2 separate regions of the Homo sapiens genome follow, and region 2 is linked to region 1. The links come from fine-mapping of genetic effects on plasma protein levels. Region 1 holds a variant in brackets. A gene starts in the other region. All regions are shown on their forward strands.

The links. PIP is the posterior inclusion probability: the model's chance that the variant is causal. Protein levels are from antibody-based Olink assays in UK Biobank. Linkage for the fine-mapping came from a reference panel and not from the study's own genotypes, which makes the PIPs less certain.
Region 2: IL15 starts here. The variant in region 1 is fine-mapped to the plasma level of the IL15 protein (UK Biobank, PIP 0.93).

The regions. Positions count from the first base shown.
Region 1 is chr1:64,845,456-64,847,955 of GRCh38, forward strand. It overlaps JAK1 (Janus kinase 1), which reads right to left. Exons shown (of 25, transcript NM_002227.4): 13 at 2,077-2,220; 14 at 1,194-1,281; 15 at 58-185. Among named protein-coding and RNA genes, the nearest start is that of RAVER2, 100 kb to the left of the region's middle. RefSeq lists enhancers at 829-1,330, 1,148-2,347. The variant C/T (reference allele first, on the strand shown) is at 1,230.
Region 2 is chr4:141,634,968-141,637,983 of GRCh38, forward strand. It overlaps IL15 (interleukin 15), which reads left to right and starts at 1,616. Exons shown (of 8, transcript NM_000585.5): 1 at 1,616-1,781. RefSeq lists an enhancer at 1,529-1,618.

The DNA.
Region 1 (2,500 bases):
CCTCCCAGGACACTCTGGTTTCTGGTGGGACCATTATGGACATCAGGACATTCTCACCAAGTAGCTCAGGGCACTGGCCAGCTGTTTGGCAACTTTGAATTTCCATGGTGTGGTAAGGACATCGCTTTTCCGGTGCATGAAGAGATCCAGAGGACCCCCTTCCACAAACTCTTCCACCATGATATCTGTAGGCATAAAAATAGCCATGTCTGGAACCTGGTCTGTGGCACGGTCCTCTCCTTCATCCCCTTACGACAGTCCACTTCAGTGGACACTACTCGGCCTCAGAGTACACAGATATCCTTGGGGGGTGCAATGGTGCAGGGGCTTCAGAGCTGGAAAGGCCAAGTTCAACCCCAAGCTCTTCTTCTAAACGGTGGCACTGAGCAAGTGACACTTCTCTGAGCCTCAATTCCCTCATCTGTAATAACAGATGGCGGCTAAATGTCACAAGGCCTGGAAAGCCTTGGCGGAGGGCCTGACACAGAGAACAAGGGCTCTGGGAACAACCGCCACCACTGCTGCTGTTCTACAACACACTGTGATGCAGAGGTCAGGCCGCTCACACGGCAAAACTTCCCTCTCAACAGGACTCCTGTGTGAGTACACGGAACAGCTCACATTGTTGGATTCCACAGGGAAGAAGTCACTTGGGGTTAAAAAAAAAATCGCTCTTCTTCCAAACTTACATGTCAGGAACTCAGAGGCCAAGGCCACCCCTCCATCTCAGTGTGCAGCAGCAGCCCAAGGGCCCACCGGCTCAGTGGCTTGACAACCAAGAAAGGGCCAAGCCTGCCTGTGGTTAAAATGGAAGCCAGTCCATTCGAGGAGCCAGCGTCTTGCTGCTTGTGGGGTGCGCTCACCTCGCTCACCTGCCCAGAGCTCCTTGGGCCTGACTCTTGTGGCCTTGACCTCATTTCACTCACCTCAGCCTCCCAGGTCTAGCACAGTGTAGGGTTCTTGGCCAGCGTTGACAAGAAAACATTACACAAATGAATGAAAAGCAATTGGTTTTAGTTCCACCTCCACTATTAACTTAAGCAAATGACCTGCTCAGTCCCTCAATCTCCTCAACTGCAAAAAGAAAGGCAAGAAGCCTGGGCAACGTGAGGGTGGGAAGAGCCTCCACCATCTCCACAGCACCCAAGCTCCCCAGCCAGGCCACCCACCCCTTTGAAAGAGAACACACTTACTCTCCACGTCGCGGACACAGACGCCATAGAGGTACA[C/T]GATGTGTTTGTGGGAGACCTGTCTCATCATGCTGGCTGCCTCGAAGAAGGCCTGTGGGCGAGCAGGACATAGGAATGTCTCAGGCCAGCCTCCAGGGGGCTGCTCCCCAGGGGCTCTGTTGAGGGGAAAGCCAGTGGACCCAGGAAAGCTCACCACTGTCGCCACCCCAGGCCCTGAACATCAATCCTCTGGCCTTGGCTGTCCAGAGGCACTGCCAAGCCTTGTTCTCTGGGCCAACCTGGCAGGGATGTGAGGTTTATTTAGAAAACCTAACAGGATGCAGAGCAGGGCTGGTGGGAGAAGCTGGCTAAGAATTTTCCCACTGGATACTCATGCCCACCTCTCTCTCTTCCTTTCAGCTCTGGGAAATACCCATATTTAGCACTATGCTGGAACAAAGGGGAAATGAAGGCAGCCGATCTCTGCTCAAGATTTGACTGTGTCACTCTAATAGTCTGTAGAATCCTGGGTGAGTCCTTTTACTCCTCTGGGCTTTCGTTTTCCAGACTGTGTGGTGAGAGCCATGGACTGTATCAGGAACTTTGAACCATTTGGCCAGAGTCCTAGGGCTCCACAGCACAGCCACCTGGACCTGTCCTTAGGAAAGGTGGGGGTTGGGGGTGGAAGGGAGGGCACAGGCTGAGTGTGAGGAGCTGTTCAACCCACCTCACTTACTCTACATGCAGGGTCCACTAAGATCATATGTGGAGAAAAAAATTCTGAGTAAAAGGCAAGTTTGAAAACCACTGGGCCACAAGAAGGGCAAGGGTTCTTCTCAACCCATTGTGTTCCACTGGCTCCAGAAACGGGAGAGGGGAGGGGAGGAGTTCAGAGGAAGACACTTGCCAGGGAAATATCCCTGTGGCTGGGGTCTAAGACTTTGAGGATCACTTTTATCTTCTTCTCTTCAGAAGTTCCTTCGTCATCCTTGTAATCCATCAGGGTCCCAGAATAGATGTGTGTTCTCGTGCCTCTCCCAAGGTGCTCGCCCTGAGGGAAGAAGCAGAAGGCTGGGTGACCTCTCTGTGCCCTGAAGTGATGGACCGTCTGGGAATGGGTCCTCAATGGGAACATGGACTATCAATGGGATGGGGCAAAGGCAAGAGGGCTCCCTGCCCCAGCTCGTGGTCCCCAGGCCTCCAGAGAAAACAACAAGCTATTTGGCCAAACACAGTGGTGACATTTGCTGGGCCCCAGGAGACAGTCCTCCTACTCCCTAAACGGCTCCTTGCTTTCTACCCCTAGGAACAGCCTTTGGCCAAAACACAGT
Region 2 (3,016 bases), not on the chromosome of region 1:
TGATATGTCCTCTGGCAGCAGCAATATCTGATATTGAGCTCTGCTAGGTGGTGCTGAGCGTGGACACCTGCTTCCTTCACCGGCTGCAGAGAACACAGTATCCATTAAAGGAGCTGAAAGAGGTGCTAGAGGAGTTTACATGGCAGGAGTCCAGGAAGCTCTGCAACAGTCCAAAATGAGGTTGGGACACATGATACACTTGTTCATCCCTATTCTCTATCTTCACACATATGCATATCAGTCCTTCCGTGGCTGCTATATTCTTGTGGTGAGATCCAAACCAGCTGCAGTCTTGCTCTCCCAGTGCATGCTCATTCTGCAAATCAGAGCTTCAATGTATTGCTATGAAAAATTCTGACTGGTCTTGAAATCCATTGACACCATCACAAGAAAATTCAACATGACATCGTCATGAACAGAAATGGATGATGGCTTCATATTCTTAAATATAATTTCCAACTATGGTGAAATTTTGAATGGTTGTAAAAACTGTTTTTGCATTTTTATACCTCACTTATTTTGTTAATGGAGACTATCTAGAGTTTGATGTAATTCTCATCAAAAAGTCCATCAGTAATTATTTCAAATATAAAACTGATATCAAAAAATTGAGTTAATGAAAATAAACTCAAATTTTTCATAAAAATATGAAATTATATTATACGGAACTTTATGTACATGGAAAGTGAATAATTTCTATTATTTTTCTATTTGATATTTATCATATTTATGTAATTAAAAACATAATTAAATTTTAAACTAAATTAAACTGCGCTCCAGGAAGACATCATTTTCTCTGAACCATGACTCTGAAAATTTGGAAAGCACCGTACAAGAGGGATTTTCAGTGATTCACAAGAGTGCAAGATTCTGCAAAGTACTTTCAAAACTAAGCGTGAGATCTTTGCTACTGCCTTTATGGCATGCAAATCACTCAGCCTCAACTCAGTTCCTTCCTCCAATGTAAAAATACTACAAGAACAACATCTCACGCTTCCATCAAATGGGACCATGTGTGATATTTTACACTGGACTACACAATAGGCTGGAAAAGTGATCCGCAGAGAGGCTCATTGCTCTAAGTTCACTCCCTGTACCAACTGTCTTGCACAAAGCTGCCACCCGGGTGTCTTCTTCCAACATTTCCCCTAGTTGGACTTCAAAGTTTCCTTCTTGCAGCCTGTGCGGGGACCAAGAGGCCGGTCTAGAGTAGCCGCCCAGCATCCAGATCCGACATCCTTTTCCCTTTCCTCAGGAAGACTTGGATGCGCGCCAGCCCAGCCCGGGTCTCCAGGTTCAGCTGCGGAAGCTTCCCACATGGTGCCCGTCGCTTGGGATGCGGCTATCCTTGTGCCTTCTCTGCAGGTGTCCCGGCAGGTAGAGGAGGAGACCGGTGGCTGGTGTTCCTGCAGGGCGGGGCTGGGGCTCCTCGATGTCCTTGCGCTTGCCCTGCAAGTTCTGCGCCCCAGGCCCCGGCAGGGACGGAAACAGGCCGGGAAGCAGTGACACCTGGGGCAGTCAGTCATCCAGGAGCCGCCGCCACCCGCCCCACCCCCAGTCTCCGCGGGAGGTGTTTGTCTTCGCCTATGCTCCCGGCTCTTTCTCTTTCACTTTTCTTTTCGCCAGGGGTTGGGACTCCGGGTGGCAGGCGCCCGGGGGAATCCCAGCTGACTCGCTCACTGCCTTCGAAGTCCGGCGCCCCCCGGGAGGGAACTGGGTGGCCGCACCCTCCCGGCTGCGGTGGCTGTCGCCCCCCACCCTGCAGCCAGGACTCGATGGAGGTACAGAGCTCGGCTTCTTTGCCTTGGGAGGGGAGTGGTGGTGGTTGAAAGGGCGATGGAATTTTCCCCGAAAGCCTACGCCCAGGGCCCCTCCCAGCTCCAGCGTTACCCTCCGGTCTATCCTACTGGCCGAGCTGCCCCGCCTTCTCATGGGGAAAACTTAGCCGCAACTTCAATTTTTGGTTTTTCCTTTAATGACACTTCTGAGGCTCTCCTAGCCATCCTCCCGCTTCCGGAGGAGCGCAGATCGCAGGTCCCTTTGCCCCTGGCGTGCGACTCCCTACTGCGCTGCGCTCTTACGGCGTTCCAGGCTGCTGGCTAGCGCAAGGCGGGCCGGGCACCCCGCGCTCCGCTGGGAGGGTGAGGGACGCGCGTCTGGCGGCCCCAGCCAAGCTGCGGGTTTCTGAGAAGACGCTGTCCCGCAGCCCTGAGGGCTGAGTTCTGCACCCAGTCAAGCTCAGGAAGGCCAAGAAAAGGTACCGCAGCTCCCCACTTCCTAACTGCTCCCGTCCCAAACTCATTGTGGGCCGGTGCAGATGTCTGTGCGTGCGCGTCTATCCCTACCTTTGCAAAATCAAATTATCGCCCTCTTCTTTGCTTGCACACGTCTTCTGGGAGAGAAATTTGCAGGAATGGTCAGTGCTTGGCAGTCAGGCCTGGGTCTGTATTGGTTCCAACTCTGCGCCAGCCAGTTATCTCTTAGAGAAGCGATAGTGTATCTAGAATGTCGAAGGAACTTGGAAAAAATACGAGCGAATTTCACTGAAATAAAATCATTATTCAAGGTGGCTTTTAAATGAAAATCCAGCCAATTTTTTCAAGTGTTATTAAGACCGCATGTAGCAAGGGTATATAGTTCATTTGACTTTATGTAATTCCATGCATTAAAAACTATGTTGACTTCAAAGTATGTCTAAACCAAACTAATTCTTAAATGATGCTTACAACAGATTCTTAAATAGGATGAGTCAGCAATTTCAAAACTGGAAGTAAAGTGGTGGTCACCAGCTAGTTTCCATTATATATTTTTAAACTACTATCTAATATTATGATACTGGTGGTGGCCAACTAAGTGGACGTCATCCTTATCTTGTCAGTGTGGTGAAAGAGGCCATATTAGCTAGGCTGAATTTTTGCTCAGGTATTACAGAATAAACTGGTGATTATGCATCCTGCCATGTAGAGGTTATAAGGTGAACCATTCTACTGAAAGCATCAAGATACAATACACTTTT